Linked DNA regions of Homo sapiens. The protein of the gene in region 1 binds, or shares a complex with, the protein of each later gene. Each region holds a gene or a part of one and is shown in the gene's direction. Other genes may lie near its edges.

Region 1 (7,121 bases):
AGTACAAGATCGGTATTGCATGAAGTCATGGAACAGCAGACTCTGTCCATTGCAAAGGTGAGTCGCCTTCTCCACCGTGAACATGGACGTGTTTAAAATATGTGGACCCTTGAAAGACAGGGTCTGTGGAACTGTGCTGTGCTACCTTGGTTCTAACTTGGGGAGATTGATAAGTGCTTTCCACATCATATTTCAGCTAAATCTCAACATGTCTTCTACAGGGTGTCACGTTTTGTCTTTATTGCTGTACTAGCCTTGAATTTGTCCTAAAGCTCTTGCAAGGTGCCTGCTTCCTGAGAAAGATGTGGTTATAGCACACATTCATCTAAACTCAGTCCTTGGCATGAATCTGAGGACAGGGCTTATCCAGGTGAACTGCTGAAGTCAGTAAAGGCAACATGGCTCAGGCAATAGAAACTCAGTGGAGGGAATATGGGTTTAGTAGGTGGCCGGGCGAAGACGGTGCTTGTTAATTGCCAGCGTCAGGGAGAGGCTTCTAACTGCACTCTTTGCTCTGATAGGCTGGGATCATCTGTCAGCTCAATGCGCGCACCTCTGTCCTGGCAGCAGCAAATCCCATTGAGTCTCAGTGGAATCCTAAAAAAACAACCATTGAAAACATCCAGCTGCCTCATACTTTATTATCAAGGTATTAAAACAGATTTTTATTTTGTTCATTTGTAGAATATTCAGGGTGAGATTGAAAAGGAGCTACTAAGATTTCAGCAACTGCTAATGGAAACTCTTCACTCTTATCAAGATGTTTCAAATTTGGTTGGTCAAGAGTTTTCACGACAAGGATGATGTGTGTTCTCATTTGTTTTTTAAGCAGTTGGGATGTTTACCTCCCACGCCGTTTACACATGGCTGTCACTCACTACTCTTAGTCCTAAAGCCACTGCTGAGAGTCAACAGAGAACAATTCCGTACAGTAGATGAGGCTCTGAAAAGTTAGATTTATTAAAGTGCAATCACATAATCTTCACTCTTGGCCCCACTACAAATATTGGACATTTTTCATAAATGGATTTTAGGTTTTAATTACTTGCTTTTTTTTCTTTTTTTTTGACAGAAGTTTTTTTTCCCAAAAAAACAGTTGAATGTGTTTTCATTCAAATCTTTCCATTGTCAGCCAGGTACAGTGACTCACACCTGTAATTCCAGCACTTTGGGAGGCTGAGGTGGGTGGATCGCCTGAGCTCAGGAGTTTGAGGCCACCCTGGGCAACTTGATGAAACCCCATCTCTACTAAAATACAAAAAATTAGCCCGGCGTGGCGGCGCATGCCTGTAATCCCAGCTACTCGGGAGGCTGAGGAGGCACAAGAATTGCTTGAGCCTGGGGGAGTGGAGATTGCAGTGAGCTGAGATCATACCACTTCACTCTAGCTTGGGCTACAGAGTGAGACTCTGTCTCAAAAAAAAAAAAAAAAAAAAAACTTTCCATCGTCAAAATTATAGTAACGTTTCCCTAAGGGAAGACTTCCTTTGACTCAGCTGATTGGTCCCCAGCCGTTCCCTGGGCCGACCTAAGGACTAGGGACAGCACAGGGTGAGTGGGGTGAGTGGATGGACACGAAGGCCCTTTCCACACCAGGCAAAGATGCTTCTCCCTGATGGCGCTCACAGGGTGCACATTGACTGCACATCTGTGGTGCTCAAGCAGTCTTTAGTACGTCGTTTGTAGGTGTATTGGTGTCTCAACTAGGAAAACAGTTTTTTTGTTGTTGTTTTGGGTTTTTTTGTTTGTTTTTTTGAGACAGAGTCTCCCTCTGTCGGCCAGGCTGGAGTGCAGTGACGCGAACTTGGCTCACCGCAACCTTCGCCTTCCAGGTTCAAGCGATTCTCCTGCTTCAGCCTCCCAAGTAGCTGGGATTACAGGCAGGCACCACCACTCCTGGCTAATTGTTGCATTTTTAGTAGAGACAAGGTTTCACCGTGTTGGCCAGGCTGGTCTCAAACTACCAACCTCAGGTGATCCACCTGCCTCGGCCTCACAAGGTGCTGGAAAAACAGTATTTTTACTTTGTTTTCTTAGGTTTGATTTGATCTTCCTCTTGCTGGACCCTCAGGACGAAGCCTATGACAGGCGTCTGGCTCACCACCTGGTCGCACTGTACTACCAGAGCGAGGAGCAGGCAGAGGAGGAGCTCCTGGACATGGCGGTGCTAAAGGACTACATTGCCTACGCGCACAGCACCATCATGCCGCGGCTAAGTGAGGAAGCCAGCCAGGCTCTCATCGAGGTAACCCTGCTGAAAAAAGGCTTACTGTGCCTGTAGCCCACAGCATTAATGTAACTGACCAATCATCTCCTTTAAAATATTAATTATTTTGTTACGAATAACATACTGTTCTCTTCCTTGTTTTGAGACAGAGCCTGGCTCTCTTGCCCAGGCTGGAGTGCAGTGGCTTGATCTCGGCTTACTGCAGCCTGTGGCCTGTGCTTCTGGGTTCAAGCGATTCTCCTGCTTCAGCCTCCCTATTAGCTGGGATTACAGGTGCCCACAACCACTCCGGCTAATTTTTGTATTTTTAGTAGAGACAGAGTTTCACCGTGTTGGCCAGGCTGGTCTTGAAATCCTGACCTCAAGTGATGCGCCAGCCTCTGCCTCCCAAAGTGTTAGGATTGCAGGCGCAAGCCACCATGCTGGGCCTAAGAATAATAAACTTTTCTTTTTTTTTTTTTTGTGAGACGGAGTCTCGCTGTGTCCCCCAGGCTGGACTGCAGTGGCGCGATCTCGGCTCACTGCAAGCTCCACCTCCCGGATTCACGCCATTCTCCTGCCTCAGCCTCCTGAGTAGCTGGGATTACAGGCACCCACCACCACGCCTGGCTAATTTTTTGTATTTTTAGTAGAGACGGGGTTTCACTGTGTTAGGATGGTCTCGATCTCCTGACCTCGTGATCCGCCTGCCTCGGCCTCCCAAAGTGCTGGGATTACAGGCGTGAGCCACCGCGCCTAGCAATATACTATTTTTTATAACTGTTTATTACTTCCTCCCATATTGCAAAATTGATCTTTCCAAATGTTGCAAAAGGGGGAAATAGTTCATTTATGTAGGTAGTACACACACTTTATATGTTTAAGTACTTACAAGCATAGTGAATTTAAGATCAAAGACCTGGTTTCAAATAGAGGCAACACTACACAGTAATTTGGAAACTGAAAAAGTCATCCAGTTTCTGTAAGCTTCCTTTTGCTTGTAAAAAACAGAATGAGCTGTCTTTTAGGTTCACTTTTCAGCATCCTGGTACATGAGCTGAAGTGCATGATGGCACATTTAGGTTATTCAAGCATTGTGATATTAAGAAGGTTCCTGGTGCTTTGATGAGCTTTGCATCCTAACTGAGCTCCTAAAAATTCTAAGATGAAAGTTACAGACATTATGTAATTTTTTTGTGTGTCATAGTCTTGGGGGTTGTTAATGAAGAAATAAGACTGTGTCATCTGTATGTGAAATTGATACAACTTACCTTTGCAGCATTCTCCCAGCAATCCTTATGAGCCCCATTGTGCCCCATGTGAGCACTTTTCCCAGACAGGCCTGATTCTCCCTATGAGTGCTCACAGCCTTCTCCTCTCCCCACATGCCACATTCCTTCCCTCTGCCACGCCATGCCCGTCTCTGTTCTTCAGAGCTACGTTAGATGCCACCCTCTCCAAGAATTCTTCCCAAGCATCTCCCAGTTGGAATATGTTCACCCACCACTGCACGCTGCACGTTGATGTCTTCACCTGCGATTTCTGTGGTCTGTCTGTGTAGTCTCTACCACTTGATGAGCTCCGGGGCCCAGGACCATATCTGAGTTCCGTTTACTTAATGGAAGCCTAAGTGTTCAAAATTCACCCACAAAACTAAAGTTGTCACCAAGGAGGTTTGCTTTTGCTTTTGTTTTTCTACCTACAATAGGCTTATGTAGACATGAGGAAGATTGGCAGTAGCCGGGGAATGGTTTCTGCATACCCTCGACAGCTAGAGTCATTAATCCGCTTAGCAGAAGCCCATGCTAAAGTAAGATTGTCTAACAAAGTTGAAGCCATTGATGTGGAAGAGGCCAAACGCCTCCATCGGGAAGCTCTGAAGCAGTCTGCAACTGATCCCCGGACTGGCATCGTGGACATATCTATTCTTACTACGGGTTCGTTATTTTCAGTGAACAGAAAAGCTTTTGAAAATTATTTCAATATGCATGTAGTTTATATGTCAGATTTAAGCTAACAGTTAAATCATTTGAAACAGAAGTTCTTAACCTTTTTTGGATTAGGACCCCTTTGAGAATCTGATGAAAGTTGCCCTTTAATCTTATCTTGATAAAAATATTGATTAACACACACAGTTTTGTGTATAGTTTTTTTTTGTTTTTTTTTTTTATACTTTAAGTTTTAGGGTACATGTGCACAACGTGCAGTTTAGTTACATATGTACGCATGTGCCATGTTGGTGTGCTGTACCCAGTAACTCGTCATTTAACATTACGTGTATCTCCAAATGCTATCCCTCCCCCCTCCCCCCACCCCACAACAGGCCCTGGTGTGTGATGTTCCCCTTCCTGTGTCCGTGTGTTCTCATTGTTCAATTCCAGTTTTGTGTATAGTTTTAAGGAGATTCTGTCTCCTTGACTGTCTGGGAAGTTTTGTTAACCCATTTTAGAGAAGTTGTTTGTTTCTTAGCAGCAGCTGCTTGCTGCACAGATGTGTAGACTGTTAAGGAAAGCAGCAGCTAGTGGCTTACAGAAATTTCCAAATAATTAAAAACTCATTCCCTTCAAATGTACTCAGCCCCTGTCGCCTTATCTTTCTAGGTGATACTACTAAAGGAATATTTTTGAGAATTTGAAGCATTTCATTTCATAATAGCAAAAATGTTTTCATTGATTTCTTTTTAAATCAGGGATGAGTGCCACCTCTCGTAAACGGAAAGAAGAATTAGCTGAAGCATTGAAAAAGCTTATTTTATCTAAGGGCAAAACACCAGCTCTAAAATACCAGCAACTTTTTGAAGATATTCGGGGACAATCTGACATAGTAAGTGTTTATATGTATTTTTTGTTTGATAGAGCTTTCTCTTTTTCCTTAATATTGCTTTTGGGTTTTTTTCCTTTATTTATTAAATAATAAATATAGAGAAGAATGAAGAAAAGGAAGATGAACCATAAGCCATCATCAAGAAATAATCACAATTAAAATTTTTGGCTGGGTGCAGTAGCTCACGCCTGTAATCTCATTTGGGACGCTGAGGTGGGCAGATCACTTGCAGCCAGGAGTTTGAAACCAGCCTGACCAATATGGTGAAACCCTGTCTCTATTAAAAATACAAAAATTAGCTGGATGTGGTGATAAGCACCTGAAATCCTAGCTACTCAGGAGGCTTAGGCAGGAGAATTGCTTGAACCTGGGAGGCGGAGGTTGCAGTAAGCTGAGATCCCACCATTGCTCTCCAGCCTGGGCACCAGAGCGGAACTCCATCTCAAAAAAAAAAAAAAAGAAAAAATTGTTATGCCCCTTTCATAGTTGTTATAAGTTTGCTTTAGGTATGAAATATTTGGGTGTCCTTTTGTAAATAAGTAAGGTAGTTGTTTAGTGAAAAGAACTATGCAGTCTTTCAGTGCTGGTCCACTTTCCATCGCTGTGTTGTGACTGAGAGGGCAGAGTTGATAGTTACAACGTGGACTATACAGATGCCAAGTCTACCACATGGACCATCTGGCTACTCCACTCCTGATTTAGAGCATAAGGCATGTGTACAGCCACCAAAAAGAGAAAGATTCTGGGTGGTACTTTAACATTATAATTATTGTGTTTCTAACAGGTAAAGGAGGGACTTGACGTGTACAATATTTATTTTCTTTCTCTTCCCCACAGGCAATTACTAAAGATATGTTTGAAGAAGCACTGCGTGCCCTGGCAGATGATGATTTCCTGACAGTGACTGGGAAGACCGTGCGCTTGCTCTGAAGCCTTGTGAGCAAGGAAGGCTCCCTGCATGTCCTGCTTGCTGCACGCCACATGGGTGTGGTCTGCATCTCAGTTGGCCGCCATCAGTGTAAATAGAGCTTAAAGTCATGGTTTGGCTGCATAAAAATTTTCTAACTTGGGTTCAATATTTGTAGTGAAGTATCTGTTTTCATTTTTTTCACGTTATAAATAAAAATACTATGCTGGCCGGGCGCGGTGGCTCACACCTGTAATCCCAGCACTTTGGGAGGCCAATGTGGGTGGATCATGAGGTCAGGAGTTCAAGACCAGCCTAGCCAAGATGGTGAAACCCCGTCTCTAGTAAAGATAACAAAAAATTAGCTGGGCTTGATGGCATGCGCCTGTAATCCCAGCTACTCGGGAGGTTGAGGCAGGAGAATCGCTTAAACCCAGGCGGCAGAGGTTGCAGTGAGCCAAGATCGCGCCACTGCACTCCAGCCTCAGCAATAGAGTGAGACTGTCTCAAAAAAAAAAAAAAAAAAAAAACCTGCCAATTTTCAAACATACCGTAGAGATTATTTTCAGGTGCCATTTTATAGTATAGCAGCAGGGCTTTTACTCTGTGTATGCACAGATGCAGTCTGGGGCATGGTTTGTGTGCTGGACTTTCTCATGGCCATCATCAGTATGCTTATGGATTTGATGACAGGCATAGCCTGGGCATATCACCTCATTGGTAAAGGGCTAGAGCCTTTCTTTTTTATGGCACTTCTTTTTTTGAGATAGGGTCTTACTCTGTCACCCTGGCTAGAGTACACTGGTACAATCACGGCTCAATGTAGGCTTAACCTCCTGGGCTCAGGTGTATGTCACTATGCCCGGCTACTTTTTGTATTTTTTGGTAGAGACGGCTTCGCCACGTTGCCCAGGCTGCAAGCGATATGCCTAGGCTCAAGCGATCTGCCCACCTCAACTTCCGGAAGTGCTGAGATTACAGGTGTGAGCCACTGCACCCAGCCTTTGTTTTATTTTTTATTTTTTGAGAGGTATGATTCTTTCTAGAGATTTTTTCTCATGGCTACTATTAGATCAGGAATGGGTGATTGGAGATTATTAGATTCTAGGTTAACTTCTACCACTTTACCCTAATACATAAAACTTTTTCCTAAATAAATGATGGAAGGAATAATACTTGGTTACC
Region 2 (3,310 bases), on another chromosome or scaffold:
AACTTAATTACCATAGTCACATTCTAAGGTCCTGGGGGTAAGGGCTTCAACATAGAGATGTGGGGGAGACCGTTCAGCTCATAACACCCTCAGTACTTCCTGCACCTCTGAGAAAGGATATTTTCTTGCCTCATCACCACGGATTCCTCAACAATGATAGACACTGTCATGGGAGATCCAGCCTTTGTTGAAGTGGCGTCAGCCATCTCAGAGCTGCCTTCCTTGAGCCAGACCCAGCCATGGCTGTGGCACTGTGTGGCATTGGTTCACCCCGCACAGCAGCCCCTGCTAACTCTTTTGTGCCTGTGATGTGGGAGAGGTGGATGGACACCCACTGGCCTGCAGAATATCTGGCCTTCAGTATACAGGGAGGACTCGGGCTGGGAACTGCTTGGTTTCCCTGAGGGTGGAGAGCCAGGGGTGAGGGTGCAGAGTGGGCCATGTCTAGTGCCCACCTGCGTGGGCTGGGTCTGGGGCTCTCGGGGCTGTGGCTGGCAGCATAGATGGCTCCCAGGGCCAGGCCAGCCCCATCCTGGGGCCTGGTTTTGCTTTGTGGTGAGGGTCTGGGTGCTCAGCTGAGCCTGAGGGCCCTGTGAGATATGGGCAGTTTGCACCATGTCCCCTTGTGCGGAAGAGAACACTGAAGCCGAGGAATTGGCCAGAGTGCGGCCAAAAGTGACCTGCCCCACCCAAGGACTTCCACAACCCACTCTGGGGACGGGGGTTCATGCCAGCTGGGGTGGGCAGGCCCGTGTTTGTCCAGGTCTGTAGGGCCCTTCCCTGTGTCACCTCTATTGTCTTCCCGGGGGGGAGTTCTCCCTGCAGGCCCCAACCCTGACCTCTCTAGCAGTGCAGACAGCAGTTGTGAAGATGAAGTACAGTGAGACAGACACAACCACTGAGTGCAGAATACCACAGGCCGGGAGGAGCCGCGCACTTTGGAATGCAGTGGAGGGCAGGCAGCGGAGGGGAGTTCTGTGCCCTGTCTTGTGTTCCCACTCCTCCCTTCTCACGGCTGTTTTTCTTTCATTACTTCAGTAATTGAGCTGAAAGCTGAGGATCGGAGCAAGTTTCTGGACGCACTTATTTCCCTCCTGTCCTAGGGTGAGTTACAGGGGTTCTGCAGGGGTGGCTGCAGCAGCCCCCTCAGAGCCCGACCCTGATGCCCTGCTCTGTCCTCCCTCAACGGAGGCTTCTACTTGGGTTTCAGACCGAAGCAGGGTTCTTGAGATTGGAGCCAACACATTTTTCCCAAGCACATCTGTCCTTAGGCTGCCAGCAGGGCCACAATGGGGCATTTTGAGGCAGCTAATTTCATTAAGCCCCTGCGATCCCTTCAGAAAGAGCTGGTATTCACCCTCTGCTGACCACACTTGGGCTGGGCATCGCGTGTGACACATGTCACACACAGACTCCCTGGTGCTGCCCTCGAAGGCCACCTGGAGCCTCCTGTCCCACAGCCTTCGTGTCAGGCGCTGGGCAAGAGCCCGCAGAGCAGCCATCCGGGCTTTTGTGTGCTTGGCTCATGAGAAAGCAAAGCTGTTGGCAGCCGCTTAGCTGGGAATTCCAAAGCGCTGGTTCTGCTGGGGCCTTCACCAGCACACAGCTGTCCTGAGGGCCCCATTGGGATTCACTGGCAGGTCACTGTCCCGGGACACCTCCCACTGCCCCATGTGCTACCTCTTTCTTAAGGGTTCCCAGGAAATAGGCCTGCCTTGTGTCTTTGTAACCATCTCTCAGCCCAGGTTCCCCACAGGGAATGCCACATCCAGCCCTGCATCTCCCAGAGCCCTAGCCTGGAGGCTGCGGCTGTGGCAGATGGGCCCTGCCAAGACTCTGTTGCAGGAGGTCCCTCAGGCCAGGCCTGGGGTCCTCCCCACTCTCCCATCCGTCCGTCCATCCATCCATCTGTCCATCCCTCCAGGGGCAAGCACCTGTTCTCCTGTTGGGGCTGGAGTGGGGGTTTCTGCTGACAACAGCATAGGGGGCCTCAGGGACCCCACAGTTCCTCTCAGGGTGGCCTGGGCTACATGGGGCCCATTTTGGGCGCGGGGCTCTGAGTCAGACCCTCGGGGTTTTTGGCAAGTTCTGTAGGGTCATCAGCAGTGACCTTGGGCCAGCCACCTAATCAGGCTTAGCCTGTTTCCTCATCCAAAAATGGGGCCCACTCTCTCCTTAGACGATGAGTGTGAGCATCACAGGACTGCATAGGGTGGGGCGGAGGCAGAGGTGGGGCTCTCTGGCAGTGGAGTGGGTGCTAGAGGCAAACCCCTCCCCTGCAGCCTGCTTGGTGGTGATGTTATGCTGCTGTGTGTCCTTCCACTGAGGCAGGGGCACAGGTGGCCTGGGCTAGGAGGGCTGAGCAGCAGAGTGCCGAGGGATGGAGGGAGAGCCCCCATGGGAGGGTGCCAGGGGGCTGGCTGAGCAGCTGGGCGGGGTCCGTGAGGTAAGAAGGTGCCCGGGCCAGGGGGCAGGAGCTCTGATGTAGGACAGCTCAGCCCAGTCAAGGGGTGCTATGAGGACAGCAGGGGCCTCCGAGTCTGGGGTGGCCTCACCCCCACAAGCAGTCCTGGCTACTCAGCAGCACTACCCAGAGGGGACGCCTGGGCAGTTTCTTCAATTCGGTGGCACATCAACATCGTTTGAAACTTGTTTTTTCTTGTTTTGTTTTCTAGAATTTGATTCTTCCAGAATGACCTTCTTATTTATGTAACTGGCTTTCATTTAGATTGTAAGTTATGGACATGATTTGAGATGTAGAAGCCATTTTTTATTAAATAAAATGCTTATTTTAGGCTCCGTCCCCATTGTGGCTCTGGTCTCGAGGCCAGTGCTTGAGTGTGCTCTGAGCCTTCTGTGGGTCTTGGGCCCCAGGAGCCCTCAGTGCCTGGCAGGAAATCAGCATGGGGATTGGCCCCAAGGACAAGATCTCCTTACTCTGTCCTCCAGGCCCTCCGGGTGGCAGTGGACAGAGGTCAGGACCCCTCGGCATCCCCGCCTCCTCATAGCACCTGCACCGGCCACTGCCTGGTGGTGCCAGCCAGCACCTGGCTCTGTCCACCTACCACTTCCTCTGGTCCACCTGGCCTCAGCCACATAGCAAGTCCACCCTCTCAGCCATCCCTCCACCTGTGGGTCTCACCATCCAGCACTCTTTTCCAGGTCTTTGAAGGCAGGAGTGATTTGGGTAGGTTTTAAGTCAGTGGGGAAAAGCTCAGAAAGAGTGGCCTGGAAAAGAGCACACAGGTAGGTGGGGCTGGTCTTGGTGCAGCCCTTGGCAAAGGGCAGTGGGCACAAAAGGGTGAGAGCT
Region 3 (7,568 bases), on another chromosome or scaffold:
GTTTGCTCACATCCTGCATTCTTGATAAACAGTTTGCTGTTTGATAATATAGCCTCCAGTGGAATGCTGAGTTGGTCACAATCCCTTTGGCCTTTTCAGCTCCCAACATCTGACCTGACTGCTGGCCTCTCCTATCATCAACCTGCTCCAGCATCACTGCCTCTTTGCTCATCCTCAGCCGACCTTCCTGGGGCCTTTGCAGCTTGATTCCTCTGCCTGGAATTTCCTGCCTTCCCTAAGGCCCATAACCACTTGGGTTATTTTCTCCCTGTTCAGGTCTGTGCCTTCTCTGAACACTTGAACTCAAAACCCTGACTCTTTCACCTTCACTCTATTCATCTTCTTTGGGTTATTCTTAGTGCTTTTTCACCAATATATTTCTTATCAGTGTATCTGTGTATTGCGTTTTCCCACACTGGAATGTAGACTCTGTAGAAAGGACTTTGTTTACTGCTTTATTTTCAGTATCTAGGTCAATGCCAGGCTAATACTAGTGTAAACCAAAAATAAAATCCCAAACCCTCCATCCCCTGCTGACTGGATGGACCCCTTCTGGGCCAAGGGGACCCCAGGGAAACCTGAAAAAAAACAAAAATGGAATTATCGGCTATGACAAGAAGCAAGATGGGATGCACCTTGTTGTACCCCCTCCCTTTTGGAGTATAGGTGCAACTGGCCAGCATTAACATTAAAATAAAGATCCTAAGACTCACAAACACACTCTTTGTGGCAATAAGGTCCAAACTCCAACCTGACTGATGTAGCATCACATGACAGATAGCAGACTCTGAAGGAAATCAAGATGTTTTACCCCAAAATATATTTCTTTGAAATATTTTGAAATGGCCCTGGAAAGCCATCTTTTGTGTGGGGAATTTGCATCTGTTAAGAATCTCCGTTAATGCAGCCAGGTCTTTCCTGAATCTAGGAGAGGTTAAACAAGAGTTTAACACACCTTTTAAGATCCAAAAAGAGACATTTACCATCAATTCTTTCAGAAGGCTGCTGCCTATGAGGCTTCATCCACATAACAAGAAACTTGGTCTCCACAACCTCCCCCTTAACTCAATAATTTCCTTCTATTGACAGTCTTTAGACAAAACTTGACTCAACCAATTGCTAATCAGAAAATCTGTAAGCTCCCTGCTTCAAGATATCCCACCTTTTTAGGCTGAACAAAAGTACACCTTCCATGTGTTGATTTATGATTTTACCTATAATTCCTGTCTCCCTAAAATACATAAAACCAACCTGTAACCTGTAACTGCACTGCCTCAGGCACGCTTTCTCAGGACCTCTTGAGGCTGTTCCTGGGCCATGGTCACTCATTGGCTCAGAATAAATCTCTTTAAATATTTTAGAGTTTGGTTTTAACTTCAACACTAGGCATTTCATAAATATTTGCAGAAGGTATGACTGAATCATCTTAACTCCTTAGAGGTGGTTCCACTGTTCTCATTCTACTGTTAAGGAAGTGAGTCTTGGGGTCATTAATGAACTTTGCCTCTGGGCTGAAATTAAAAAGGCCTATGGCTGAGGAGGGTAGTGCATGCTGGTCTTTGATTCAGTCCTGCAGCATAGTCCAGTCTAGAGTTGTGTATTTGGGAAAAACACCTAGATAAACTATTCCTTACTGTAGAGATGAAAATATAATTGCCCAAGGGATTCTCCTTGTCCACTGCCCAGACAGAGCTGATTTATCAAGACAGGGGAGTTGCAATAGAGAAAGAGTTTTTTGGTTTTTTGTTTGTTTGTTTGTTTGTTTGTTTTTTGAGACAGAGTCTTGCTCTGTCGCTCAGGCTGGAGCTCAATGGCACAATCTCAGCTCATTGCAACCTCCGCCTCCAGTGTTCAAGTGATTCTCCTGCCTCAGCCTCCCAAGTAGCTGGGATTACAGGCATGTGCCACCAGGCCCAGCTAATTTTTTTTTTTTTTTTTTTGAGACAGAGTCTCACTCTGTCACCCAGGCTGGAGTGCAGTGGTGAGATCTCGGCCCACTGCAACCTCCACCTCCTGGGTTCAAGCAATTCTCCTTCCTCAGCCTCCTGAGTAGCTGGGATTACAGGCGTGTGCCACCATGTTCAGCTAATTTTTTTGTATTTTTAGTAGAGATGGGGTTTCGCTGTGTTGGCCAGGCTGGTTTTGAACTTCTGACCTCAGGTCATCCACCTTGGCCTCCCAAAGTGCTGGGATTACAGGTGTGAGCCACCATGCCCGGACAGGCTAATTTTTGCATTTTTAGTATAGATGGGGTTTCACCATGTTGGCCAGACTGGTCTCGAACTCCTGACCTCAGGTGATCCACCCGCCTCAGTCTCCCAGTGTGCTGGGATTACAGGCGTGAGCCACTGGGCCTGGCTGAGAAAGAGTTTAATTCACGCAGACCCAGCTGTACAGGAGACTGGAGTTTTATTATCGCTCAAATCAGTCTCCTAGAAAACTCCAAGATAGGGATTTTAAAGGATAATTTAGTGGGTAGGGGGTCACAAAGTGAGGGGTGCTGATTGGTTGGATGAGAGATAAAATCATAGAGAGTCAAAGCTGTCCTCTTGGGCTGAGTCAGTTCTTGGGTGGGGACCACAAGACCAGATGAGCCAGTTTATCGATCTGGGTGGTGCCAGCTGATCCCATCAAGTGCAGGGTCTACAAAATATCTCAAGCACTGGTCTTAGGTTTTATAATAGTGCTGCTATCCCTAGGAGCACTTGGGGAGGTTTTAGAATCTTGTAGCCTCCCGCTGCGAGACTCGTAAATTTCTAGTCTTGTGGCTACTCTGTTACTCCTGCAAAGGCAATCTAGTCCCCAGACAAAAAGGGTTTCGCTTTGGTAAAGGGCTAAGTATTTGTTTCAAAATTAAACTATAAACTAAGTTTCTCCCCAAGTTAATTCGCCCTAAGCCCAGGAATGAACAAGGATGGCTTGGCGGTTAGAAGCAAGATGGAGCCAGTTAGGTCAGATCTCTTTCACTGTAATAATTTTCTCTATTATAATTTTTTCAAAGGCGGTTTCAAAAAGGCAATGTTTGCTGGGTGCGGTGGCTCACGCTGTAATTCCAGCACTTTGGGAGGCCCAGGCGGACGGATCCCTTGAGCTCAAGAGTTGTCGACCAGACTGGCCAACATGGTGAAACCCTGTCTCTACTTAAAATACAAAATAGCCAGGTGTGGTGGCCTGAGCCTGTAGTCCCAGCTACTCAGAGGGCTGAGGGGGGAAAATTACCTCAGCCCGGGAAGTGGAGGCTGCAGTGAGCTGAGATGGCGCCACTGCACTCCACCTGGGTAACGGGAGTTAAGACCCTGTCTCCAAAAAAAAAAGGCAATGTCATTATTCAACATAAGCCTGAGTAGGCCATTCCCATGCCCATTCCTTAGATGACATATCTACTGTATATTTGCAAAAGATCAACATAGTTTCTAGGGTTAGCTAGAATTAATCCAAGATTGCGCCGGTTGCGGTGGCTCATGCCTGTAATCCCAGCACTTTGGGAGGCCGAGGTGGGCGGATCACGAGGTCAGGAAATTGAGACCGTCCTGGCTAACACGGTGAAACCCCGTCTATACTTAAAAAATTCAAAAAATTAGCTGGGCGTGGTGGCGGGCGCCTGTAGTCCCAGCTACTCGGGAGGCTGAGGCAGGAGAATGGCGTGAACCCGGGAGGCGGAGCTTACAGTGAGCCGAGTTCGCGCCACTGCACTCCAGCCTGGGCGACAGAGCGAGACTCCATCTCAAAAAAAAAAAAATCCAAGATTGCTTGTTAGAAATTAACATTGCTTTTTGAAAAATTGCCTAATAAAACAATTCTTTAGCAGTGATTCCCATCTTCCATATGCTTAAGAAATATTCCATAACCATCTAGCCAAGAAAATTCCTAGTGAATTCGTATTAATCTAGGGCAGATATTACAAATATTTTTAAAAGACTATTTTAAAATCAAAGGGTGGTACTGTGGTGTTGGAAATGGAAAGCCTAAATAACAGTCTAATCACTCTGGAGCTGTGTGACCTTGGGCAAGTTACCTAACTTCTGTTTCCTTATTAATCCCGGGTCTTAAAACACTTCAGAGATAATTGTGGGAATGAAATACACACTGCAGTCCCTACCAGCACTAGGTACCCAATAAAAGAGAGTTTCATTTTAATATCAAACAGAAAACCCGCACTGCAAAACTGAAACCCTTGCGTCCTACCAATGCACACCAAGTTTTTGGGCCTTTCCTCTTAACCTCAAAGTGCTCTTTTCTTGAACCTAAACGAGAATGAATGAATCAAAAGGAAAATGACAAGGAAGCTGCGGGGCGTGCATTTATTTCCAGCTCTGCTGCCCGTAGAGTCCCCCGGCCCACTGCCTGAGAACTGGAAAAGCCGTCTCTGCTCAGCCGAGGGGTTCTGCCATCTCCGGGGCGGGGACCTCACCTTGGAAAGACCCCTCCCACTCCGCCCCTCTTGGAATGCGGCTGAGCGGTGGATGTCCCTTTTCGGGCGCCGTAGGCGCGTTCCTATTGGCTAGCTTTGTTCGGCGCCAAAGCGCGGAGCGGAGGCCGAGGCGAGAGCCTGGCGCTGTAGGACTAGAACGAAAGGAGTGAGGCGCCGAGAGCCCAGATACCATTTTGGCGTGAGAGCTGGTGGTTGGCAAGGCCGCGGGAGTGGGAAGCGTCCGCCATGTTCTGCGAAAAAGCCATGGAACTGATCCGCGAGCTGCATCGCGCGCCCGAAGGGCAACTGCCTGCCTTCAACGTGAGGGGCGGGTAGACTTGGACGGGGCATGCCGGCGTTGGGCCCTGGGCTCTGGGGCGGGGCGGCTCCCCGTCAGGGTTCACTTTCGCACCTTGTTCCCTCCGAGCTCCGGAAAACTTGGGAAGCAGCAAAACAAAATTCAGGAGGAAAGAGAAAGCATTCATGCTTACGCTACCCAGCGATTTGGTGAATTTCCTCATCTGAGCAAATTTTGCATTTTAGCAGTTTTCCTTGGACAGATTTGTTCCGGTCCCTTAAAATATTTACAGGTTGCCTGATAATTTAGCATTTCTTGCTCACTCAGGCATCTAATCGTGGTCAGTAAAAGCTAGGCCTCTGGAACCTGGCTGAGATTCTGGTTCTGTAGTGTGACTTTGGGGCAGTTACTCAAGCTTTCTGTGCTCTCAGTTTTCTCATACGCAAAAATGGGGATGGTGACAATAATAGTACCCAACGCATGATGTAGTGGACGCAAAATGAGTGGCATGTGTAAGGGTCTCTGCATATGCCTCACATACAGTAAGGGCTGAGTCAGTGTTAGCTATTAATATTACTTTTCTCCTGCTGCTGCTGTTACTATTAATATTATGATTATTTGTATTTTTCTATCACTGCTACCCCAGGGAGAGTGCTAAGCACTTCATGTACATTATCTTTTGTCTTTCTAATAACCCTTTGAGGGCCCGGTACCATGGCTCCTGCCTGTAATCCCAGCACTTTGGGAGGCTGAGGCGGGAGGATCGCTTGATCCTGCCACTGCATTCCAGCCTGAGTGACAGGGAGACCCTGTCCCAAACAAAACAAAAATAACTTTTTGATGTTTAAACTATTGTTTTCTACTTTTTTCAGCTATATATGCATAGGATTGGGGAGATTTAAGTATATTGCCTAAGGTGACACAGCAAGAAAGCTAGGATTTGAACCCTGGCACTCTGGCTCCAGAGCCTGCACTCTAAATTGTATATTTCACTTACGTCATAGAGCAGGCATTATGTGGATGTCAGGACACATTCTGCTGGAAGATGGGCACAAAAACAGATAATAGAATTCACCACGCTAAGTGATACTAAGGAGGTATAGCAAGGAGCACGAAGGAGAAACACCAGTATGAGCTGGGGTAGAAGAGGTGATATATGAGCCTTTCCATCCTCAAGGATGAGGTTACTGATCTGAGAAGGAAGCGAGGCATCCCAGCCAAAGGATGCTGCAGCACAAAGTCACGTGGTCACACTGGAGAGGGTGACCAATAGGGCCTGTGGGGAGTCTAGGAAGGTGGCTCACAGCCTACATGAATTTGTTGTTCACTTATAAGGCATGCTGGGAGCTGGTAGAGGATTTTAGACAAGGAAGTGATAGGGTAATTTTTGTGTTTTGAAGGTAACTGCGGCAGCAATATGGGGAATGGATTGAAGAGAGGAAAGAATGGGACAGGGAGATGGCTACTGGGTGGCTGATAGAGCAGGTGAGAGGTGTGTGGTCTGAACTGTGTCAGGTCAGTGGCACTGAGATCAGTGTTTGGGTTTTAGAGACATGAAGCAAACATGACTTGTAGCTATTAGAGCAGGGGCAGAGATGGGGTCCATAATGAATAAGAGGGAGGAATTGGGATCTTGGAGGATCCTTAGGAAACTGGGTAAACAACATCAGAGTTCAGGAGATAGAGTGTGTTGGGAAAGGTAATGAGTTTTGTTTTGAACACTAAAGAGCACCTAGCCAGACAATTAGATTGTCTTACAAATGAAGAAACTGAGCTGACACAAATTATGGGTCAAGTTAAGGAACTCGTCTGAATTTACAGCATATTGGAGGTAGAGCTTCAACTTGAACACAGGTTTTCCAGTTTCTAGTCAATTGTTTTTTCAACTTCAGAGCAGTTACCTCATTTAAAAAGTTAGGCAGCAGTCTGCAGCTCAGTAGAGATGCTTGAATGCAGAAGTGTGTAAATGCTAAAATGTGGCCTGAGAACTAGGAACTTTAGAGGTCATTGTACATATCAGGACACAGGCCTAGAGAACAGAGAGACTGTGCAAACAGGTGCGGCCAAGCTGGATTTTGGACCTGACTCTGACACTTAGTTTAGCTCTCTGTTTTACTCAAATTTTAAGTTAAGTGTTGGGTTATCACTTTGTGGGGCTAGGGGCTGGTCTTAGAAGTTGTAGAATCAGGCCAGGAGTGGTGGCTCACGCCTGTAATCCCCCCACTTTGGGAGGCTGAGGCGGGCGGATTACAGGGTCCTGAGATTGAGACCATCCTGGCTAACATGGTGAAACCCCGTATCTACTAAAAATACAAAAAATTAGCCAGGCGTGGTGGGATGTGCCTGTAGTCCCAGCTACTCGGAAGGCTGAGGCAGGAGAATGGCTTGAATCTGGGAGGCGGAGGTTGCAGTGAGCCAAGATCGGGTCACTGCACTACAGCCTGGGCGACAGAGAGAGACTCCGCCTCAAAAAAAAAAAAAAGTTGTAGAATCACTGTCTTGTAGGTCTTAATTTGGTGGAGCACCTTTTGTCTCACTAGTGCCTTCCACTGACAAACCCACCTGATACTCAAGGTGATCCAGCAGCCTGGAACACTTAGTCAGCCTGCAGAGGCTGGCCTCCGACTCAGCGGCACAGAGGAAGGCTGACAGTGGATCTGAGAGGCCCAAGGACCACACAGGCTTTTCTCTTTTTTTTATTGTTTTGAGATGGGAGTTTCGCTCCTGTGGCCCAGGCTGGAGTGCAATGGTGTGATCTCGGCTCACTGCAACCTCCGCCTTCTGGGTTAAGCAATTCTCCTGCCTCAGCTTCCCTAGTAGCTGGGATTACAGGCGCCTGCCACCATGCCCAGATAATTT

The links.
Region 2: MCM4 (region 1) and CDC45 share a complex: the UniProt entries of both Homo sapiens proteins name them as parts of the CMG helicase complex.
Region 3: MCM4 (region 1) and GINS1 share a complex: the UniProt entries of both Homo sapiens proteins name them as parts of the CMG helicase complex.

The regions. Positions count from the first base shown.
Region 1 is NC_000008.11:47,970,820-47,977,940, forward strand, and holds part of MCM4 (DNA replication licensing factor MCM4), read left to right. Parts: coding exon 1-57; intron 58-521; coding exon 522-649; intron 650-2,037; coding exon 2,038-2,245; intron 2,246-3,914; coding exon 3,915-4,143; intron 4,144-4,895; coding exon 4,896-5,029; intron 5,030-5,866; coding exon 5,867-5,959; 3' UTR 5,960-7,121. UniProt on the Homo sapiens protein: Acts as a component of the MCM2-7 complex (MCM complex) which is the replicative helicase essential for 'once per cell cycle' DNA replication initiation and elongation in eukaryotic cells.
Region 2 is NC_000022.11:19,517,806-19,521,115, forward strand, and holds the end of CDC45 (cell division control protein 45 homolog), read left to right. Parts: intron 1-1,038; coding exon 1,039-1,103; 3' UTR 1,104-1,104; intron 1,105-2,675; 3' UTR 2,676-2,803; downstream 2,804-3,310. UniProt on the Homo sapiens protein: Required for initiation of chromosomal DNA replication. Core component of CDC45-MCM-GINS (CMG) helicase, the molecular machine that unwinds template DNA during replication, and around which the replisome is built.
Region 3 is NC_000020.11:25,403,164-25,410,731, forward strand, and holds the start of GINS1 (DNA replication complex GINS protein PSF1), read left to right. Parts: upstream 1-4,509; 5' UTR 4,510-4,657; coding exon 4,658-4,732; intron 4,733-4,907; exon of another isoform or gene 4,908-5,132; intron 5,133-7,568. UniProt on the Homo sapiens protein: Required for correct functioning of the GINS complex, a complex that plays an essential role in the initiation of DNA replication, and progression of DNA replication forks.